2 linked regions of the Homo sapiens genome follow. The protein of the gene in region 1 purifies or fractionates together with the protein of each later gene. This does not show direct contact. Each region holds a gene or a part of one and is shown in the gene's direction. Other genes may lie near its edges. The genes, in order: ESPN and FAM98A.

Evidence for each region.
Region 2: the proteins of ESPN (region 1) and FAM98A purify together in Homo sapiens (affinity purification with mass spectrometry; one large-scale study listed by BioGRID and IntAct). This does not show direct contact.

What each region holds. Positions count from the first base shown.
Region 1 is NC_000001.11:6,445,254-6,449,064, forward strand, and holds part of ESPN (espin), read left to right. Parts: intron 1-410; coding exon 411-682; intron 683-1,051; coding exon of another isoform or gene 1,052-1,171; exon of another isoform or gene 1,172-1,795; intron 1,796-2,774; exon of another isoform or gene 2,775-2,864; intron 2,865-3,216; exon of another isoform or gene 3,217-3,308; intron 3,309-3,387; coding exon 3,388-3,811. UniProt on the Homo sapiens protein: Multifunctional actin-bundling protein. Plays a major role in regulating the organization, dimension, dynamics and signaling capacities of the actin filament-rich microvilli in the mechanosensory and chemosensory cells.
Region 2 is NC_000002.12:33,592,704-33,596,514, reverse strand, and holds part of FAM98A (protein FAM98A), read left to right. Parts: intron 1-877; coding exon 878-1,026; intron 1,027-3,811. UniProt on the Homo sapiens protein: Positively stimulates PRMT1-induced protein arginine methylation. Involved in skeletal homeostasis. Positively regulates lysosome peripheral distribution and ruffled border formation in osteoclasts.

The sequences.
Region 1 (3,811 bases):
GTGCCCTGAGCATGGGCGTCCGTCCACTTGCAATGCCTGCTTCACGCCGCCAGATGGTGGCCTCCAGACCTGGCAGGGGTGCCCTGCAAAGATTGGATGTGGCCATCCGTACTCCCAAGGAGTAGACCCTCCCCTTCCAGGTGACCCTGCCCTCTAGACACACCAAAGCCTCCAGTGCTTCCCCTCCAAACCGGAGTGCCTGGTCTTCCCCCAGTAAGTGCTGGGCTGGGGCAGGGTAGGGCCAGGGAGGGGAAGCCCAGCACCGCCAGGGGCCACAGCAGGTGTACCAAGTGGTGCCCGGAGCCCACCTTGCCCCTCGGCAAGTTGTTTCCAGGTGGTGGAGAGTCTCAGTCTTGGGGGACAGCCTGTCTGCATGCTCCCAAATCTGGCCCTTCCTTCTGCCTCCCCAGGGCTTTCCAGCGCTAGAGCTGCAGACATACAGAGCTACATGGACATGCTGAACCCGGAGCTGGGCCTGCCTCGGGGCACGATTGGGAAGCCCACACCCCCACCACCCCCACCCAGCTTCCCCCCGCCACCCCCGCCCCCAGGCACCCAACTGCCCCCACCCCCACCTGGCTACCCAGCTCCCAAGCCTCCTGTAGGACCACAGGCAGCTGACATCTACATGCAGACCAAGAACAAACTCCGCCACGTGGAGACAGAGGCCCTCAAGAAGGAGGTAGTGAGCCCTCACCCCCTGCCTGCCTCCCAGCAGGGGGACTGGGCTGATGGGGGCCAGTGAGGCCAAAGGCCTGGCCTCACTAGTGGGCATAGGGTGGGGATCCCTGGGTCCATGGCATGTTCAAGAGTCAAAGCTCCTGGCGAGTCCCACAAGGGGTCAGGGCTGGACACTGGACTGGGAGGAGAGTAAGAGCAGGTCATTGCCCTCCATGGGAGCTGGGGGGTGAAGGACGCAGGTCCAGACAGCTGTGCCTCACCAGGAACTGGGCCTGTGCCACCTCTTGCACAGAGTGGCCGGGTTGTCATGGAGTTGACAGAGAATGCATGGAGACTGCCCCTCCCCAAGCATGCCCCCCCACCCCCACAGCCCCAGGCTCAGTCGGAGAGTGTCACCCAAGGGAGGTGGCTGCCAGGTGGAAGGTGCCAGTGGCATGGCTGTGGAGGTGAGGGCTGGAAGGAGGGTGGGGGGAAGGTGAGCAGGCACTAGCAGGGCTGGGTGGAAGTGAAGCTGTGGCTGGTTCCAGTTTAGGGCTTGAGCTCCTGGGGGAAAGGGCCAGGCCTGAGCTGGGAGCCCTGGAAGGAAGCGAGCCTGTGTGGAGAGGATGAGGCCAGGGTGGGCAGGTGGAGTGTGAGGTGCCTAGGGATGTCTGGGGCCTGCAGGCCCCTGGCTGAGGCTCTGGAGCAGGGGTTGGGGCAGAGGTCTGGTCTGAGCAATTCCGGGTATCCCGGGCAGGGTGCCCTGGGGAACACTGGCGTTCTGGCCATAGGAACAGAGCAAGGATGGTCTAAGAGGTGAGGGGACAGCCTGAGGTCACAGGTGGCCAGATGTGGTGTGGCAGCCCCCTGGGGTCCTGCTGGAGCCTGGGACCTTGCAGTTCTCAAGCCCAAGGCAAAGCCACCCCAGGGCCAATTCATAAAAGGTGACTCGGGTCACAAGGCCACTGGGCAAGGGAGGCATGGGAGGGACACCGAACCTGCAGGCCAGCTCCAGTAGCTGCCCTCTTCATGCCACCTTAGACCAAGCTCCCACAGTGGCTTCCCCTTTCATCTCTGGGAGGCAGAGGGGGCCCTGGAATCGCTGAGTTCCCAACGCAGACTGTTGGCCCCGCCCAAATCCACAGGACAGGTGGCCCAGCCAGTGCCCCGTCTCCACCGTTGAGCCCAAGTGCCAGGTCTGCGTGGTCCCCTCCTGGCTGTGTGAGCCCCCTCCCGGCTGTGTGCGTCCCTCCGGGCTGTGTGCGCCCCTCCCGGCTGTGTGCGCCCCTCCCCACTGTGTGCGCCCCTCCCGGCTATGTGCGTCCATCTCGGCCGTGTGCGTGCTGGGCCGCAGGCGCCAGGGCCGGGGCCCGGACGCTCCACAAAGGGCTCTTTGTGTCGCCGCGGCGCCCCCCGCGCGGGTGCCTGACCGGGGGCGGGAGCAGGGTCGTGGCGTCCGAACCTCCGGGCTGCAGGGGGCGCGGAGCGGGCGGGCTGGCCCAGAAAACAAATCCTGCGGTGTCGCATTTCCTGCAACGTGAGCCAGGTCGGGCGGGGTGAAGGGTCTGAGGCCACCGCAGGGACGCATGGGCTGGAGAGTGGGGCAGAGGACAGCCCCCACCCGGTCACTCAGTCTTTGGCCCGGCCGCCTCACTCTCCCTCACTGAGCTGGGCCTAGTTGGGGGCAGCTGCGATGGGGTGGGAAGCCACGCTGTCACCCGACCCCGCCTTACGGCCCCTGAAATCCGAGGCTTGAGCGCGGGTGTCGGTGTCGCTTTCGTGGATGGCGATGGTTTCCAGATGCAGGAGGGGAAGGGTGGGGACGCGACCCGGAGCCGGGGGCCAAATATGAGAGGCCTCCTCTGCCCACAGTCAGCCCTCTCCCCTCTCGGGCGGGGATGAAGGTGGGGGCTCAGCTCCCAGCTTAGGGAGAGGCGCAGGGGGCGGGGTCACATCTGGCCGGGGACGGGTGCAGAGCCGCGGCCAGGTGTGGCAAAGTAGTTGGCGCCCCCTGTGGCATCCGCGACGGCTGGGGGGGTTCAGCCTGGGATTGGCGGGCCCCGGGTGATGTCAGGCCGTCGGAGCCCATAGGCTGGCTGTGCGCGGGTGGCTGTAACCTGAGAGGAAGTATCAGGTAACGCAGGTGTCGGGTCCTGCCGCCCCCACAGCCAGGTGCACAGCGGGGGCCACCAGCACCGTGGCAGGTAGGAGCAGCCCCCGGACGGGCAACCGGGGTCCGTGGCAAGCCGGAGCCTCCGAGAGCACAGGCTCTGGAGGGGGCTCCCTCCGGCCCCGGACCCCCGAAAGACAGGGCTCCGCGGAGCCCTGGGGACCCGCAGTCCTTCTGACAGCCGAGAGCGGAGTGCGGCCGAGGGCCTAGTGAGGGCTAAGCTGGGAGGTGCCCCTTCGCCAGCTCCCCCTGGCGTCGGGGCTGGGCCACCCCGCCCCTGGGCCCGCCTCTTCTGGCCTCAGTGGGGGCCCCTGTGCCCCTTGGCCGGTGCCCAGAACCCCTCCCTGTAAGGCGGGCGGAGCCTGCCCTTCCACCGAGGCCCCCATGACCCTCGCCCGCTGCCCACTGTGAGAACCAGGGGGTCTAGGAAGTCAGCTGCTGCACCCCTCGACGGCCGCTGGCCGCGAGTCCCCAGGAGGTGAAGAGCTGGGTGGGGAGGCGTGGGGGGCGCCTACCGGGCAGGTGCCCGAGCCCCACCGGTCACTGTCTTCCCGCAGCTGAGCTCCTGTGACGGCCACGACGGGCTGCGGAGGCAGGACTCCAGCCGCAAGCCCCGCGCCTTCAGCAAGCAGCCCAGCACGGGGGACTACTACCGGCAGCTGGGCCGCTGCCCCGGCGAGACGCTGGCCGCACGCCCGGGCATGGCGCACAGCGAGGAGGTGCGTGCCCGCCAGCCCGCGCGCGCCGGCTGCCCGCGCCTCGGCCCTGCCGCCCGCGGCTCACTCGAAGGCCCCTCCGCTCCCCCGCAGGCGGCGCTGCTTCCTGGGAACCATGTTCCTAACGGCTGCGCCGCGGACCCCAAGGCGTCCAGGGAGCTGCCACCGCCGCCCCCACCGCCGCCGCCGCCCCTGCCGGAGGCCGCGAGTTCGCCACCGCCGGCCCCGCCTCTGCCCCTCGAGAGCGCTGGCCCTGGCTGCGGGC
Region 2 (3,811 bases), on another chromosome or scaffold:
TATTTAAGATTACTTGGAGTGACAGAAATCTTATATTTTAGAATATTGGTGATTGGAGTTCATTATGACTGTCATCTTTTATGAATGTTTGAACATTTTTAAATTTTTTAAAATTATATTGGAATCACTTACAAAGGATTAGGATTCAGATGCGCCAGTTCATTAACTGCCAATATTTATTAACCTAACCTGACGTTTCTTTGGTACTAGAATGTCTTACTAGTCTTAACTGGCATTAAATTTATAAAAATGATATAAATGGTTAACTGGAAAGTTTTTACTTTTAAAGGAAGTCATTAAAAACCTAACTAAGCCTGGGCAACATAGTAAGACCCCTGGCTATTTTATAAAAAATAAAAAAAAAGCCAGGTTTGGTGGCTTGTGCCTTCACTGCACTTCAGCCTATGTGACAGTGCAAGACCTCATCTCAAAATAAAAACATAATCTAGTTGTTTTCTGGAAAATTTTTAGAAAAGATAACCTAAGTTTTATTTCTGAAATAAGTTACAGTATAATTAGCTATTACTTGTTAATTTGCTTTTAATACTCAATTCAATTACAGTAAGAAAATAAATCTTTTTACAATGGAAGCTTTTAGTAAATGTACAGAAGTTGACATAATTTAGTAGTATATGCAATTCTGTTAGATATTCACCTACATTTTGAAAGGTTGAAATGCAGCTACCATTTAGCTGCTTTTTGTAATGGTTCAGTATAGTTCTAAATTATGTTTATATTTGTCCATTTAAAATAAAGATAAGTACTAACTTATCTTTATTAAATTATTGCTTATATAAATAAGACATAGATATGTTTTATCTGTAATATATTAGGTATGATTGTATTTTCTTCTGAAATGTAATTTCTTGCTCACCAGTTACAAGGGCCCATTGTTGGAAGATGGAGCGCTCTCTCAGGCAGTCTCTGCTGGAGCCAGTTCCCCCGAGTTTACCAAACTCTGTGCTTGGCTGGTGTCTGAATTAAGAGTGCTCTGTAAACTAGAGGAAAACGTGCAAGCAACTAACAGTAAGTAAACATTCACTTTTAGGTACAAAGTATAAAAATAACATTGAGGTATTGTCAACTGAACATTATCAATACTAAAGCTGAAAGTTGCAAGTTTTTGTAAATGTAAAAAATTTGTAAAGAAGCCAAGATTTTTTTTCCGTCCGTTGTTTTTAGAGGTGATTCAGAAGTTGAAATACCAGAATAAAGTCATGTAACTTAAAAATTCGTGGATGCTGAAAAGACCCTATTACTGGGATACAGAGAAATGGAGACCACAAGCATAGAATGTATGAACTTCCTATATTTTGTAAGATGTTAAATGTAAGATCCTAGATTGATGGCTAGAACTAGATACTGGGATATTTTTCTTTTAGGATTACCAGATTCTAGAAGCATCTATAGCATGTAGAGTAAATGCATTATTATTCTGTTATGCTTGGGGAGAAAGAGAACACTTTGTTAAGACATTTTGTTTATCATAAGAATGCATCGTTAGATACATCACAGTGAGATCCAGGACAATCAAATTTATGGATCTGAGAGCTGTTCTGCATTTACCAATTTTGTTTCCACTGTTGCACTAGTTTGTCGACACTGCAAAAGAGGCAAAAGCTTGGAACCTACCACTCTACCATCTGGTTCCTTCCTGCTGTAGGTAAACCTATAATAGGAGACCAAGGAAAATACTCACCTGTTAACCCACCCTTATGGAGAGCTATACATATAATTCCTTTTTTTCCACATAATCACGTTTTGAAGAGCTCACCTTCTTGCATGCTAGTGTGTGTGTGTGTGTGTGTATATATATATGTGTATATATATGTGTGTATATATATATGTGTATATATATGTGTGTATATATATATGTGTATATATATGTGTGTATATATATATGTGTGTATGTATGTGTGTGTGTGTGTGTGTGTGTGTATATATATATATATAATTTTTTTTTTTTTTTTTTTTTTTTTAACTTTATGTTCCGGGATACATGTGTAGAACATGCAGGTTTGTTACATAGGGATACGTGTGCCATGGTGGTTTGCTACACCTATTGACCTGTCCTCTGAGTTCCCTCTCCTCACCCTCTAACCCGCAACAGGCCCTGGTGTGTGTTGTTCCCCTCCCTGTGTCCATGTGTTCTCATTTTTTAACTCCCACTTAGTGGTGAGAACATGTGGTGTTTTTTTTCTGTTCCTGTGTTAGTTTGTGGAGGATGATGGCTTGCATGCTGGTATATTTAATGTGTACGTGTTAGTTGCATTCAGTTCTAATTATTAAGGAGAGTATAGTGTAACAGTAATGATAGCAACAGCTTACATTTATTGTGTACTCACTATGTTCTAAACACTTTATATGTGTTAACTCATTAAACCTCAGGGCAACCCTATGAGGCAGGTTTTATTACTGTTATACCTTTAACAAGAAAGCCCAGAGAATTTAAATACATTGCCTGAGGTCATACAACCTGTAGGGGTGAAGCCTGGTTTCAACCCCAGAACAGTAGTCAAGTTCTGAGCCAGTGTGCTTGAACACTGTGCTATACTGCCTCTTGACCAGATGTTTGAGAGACTGTAGGAACCTTTGAAAACACCAGTACTAGATGATACCTCTATTTAACCTGGAGCCCCTTTTTCTCAAATGAAACATGATACAGAAGCTAACATGTAAAACAGGTTAGAAGGTATTCTAACAAAGTAGAGACGAGGTACCTTTAGCCCAGCTCTTTCCTCCTCATCCTCCCAGCTGCCTCTAAAAGAGCTCTGTGGAACTCAAGGGCTCACAGATCACAGTTTGCAAAATATTCATAATGTAGGCTTCCTGTATTACAGATTAGAAAATGGACTCAGGTGATCAAGTGACTCTCTCAGAGTTTGTTAATTTCTTCCCCTTTGTGATAGTGAATAGAGAACAATCAAAATAATGAAGAAAGAGCTTTGTTTTTCCTTTGGTTCACCCAGTGAACTCTATACCTTTTTTTATATGCTGTGGGAATACAAGACTGTAAGTCATGTTTGCTGTCTTCAAATTTTTTCTAATTGAGAATGTTAGGCACAAATTAAACAACTGGAGATAAGTACAGTCCTTTTGTTTGTTTGTTTTTAGACAAGATCTCACTCTGTCACCCAGGCTGAAGTGCAGTGGCGCGATCTGGGCTCACTGCAACCTCTGCCTCCCAGGTTCAAGCAATTCTCCAGGTCAGCCTCCTTAGTAGCTGGGACTACAGGCATGTGCCACGACAACTGGCTGATTTTTGTTATTTTTCTTAGAGACGGGGTTTTGCCACGTTACTCAGGCTGGTCTCGAACTCCTGAACTCAAACCATCCACTCGTCTCGGCCTTCCAAAGTGCTGGAATTACAGGCATGAGCCACCGTGCCCGGCCAAGTACAGTACTTAAATGCTGAACCACTTTGTGGTTCACAGAGAGAGGAAATCAGCAAGTACGAGGGTGAAGTTTCAGCCAAGTACAAGGAAGGTTTCATCAAGGAGCAAGGCCACTGGGCTTTGATGGATGGGTGGGATTTGCTAGAGGGGAAGAGAGTAGAGGACATATCTGTCACAGGGAATAACTTAAATGAAGGCACAGAGTGGAAATAAGACTGGCTATTCATGGGACAGTGAGGAGACTGGCCTGGCACACACAGGAAATATTTGTGGAGGGAATGTAGGTGATTATAGCTGAATATGCTAGGAAGAACAAACCTAAGCAGCTATGAAGAATCTTTAAAAGCAGACAGAAAAAAATCAGATTGGATGAGGGAGAAATTAGGGAACCATTAAAGACTCCCAAATAAGAGAAT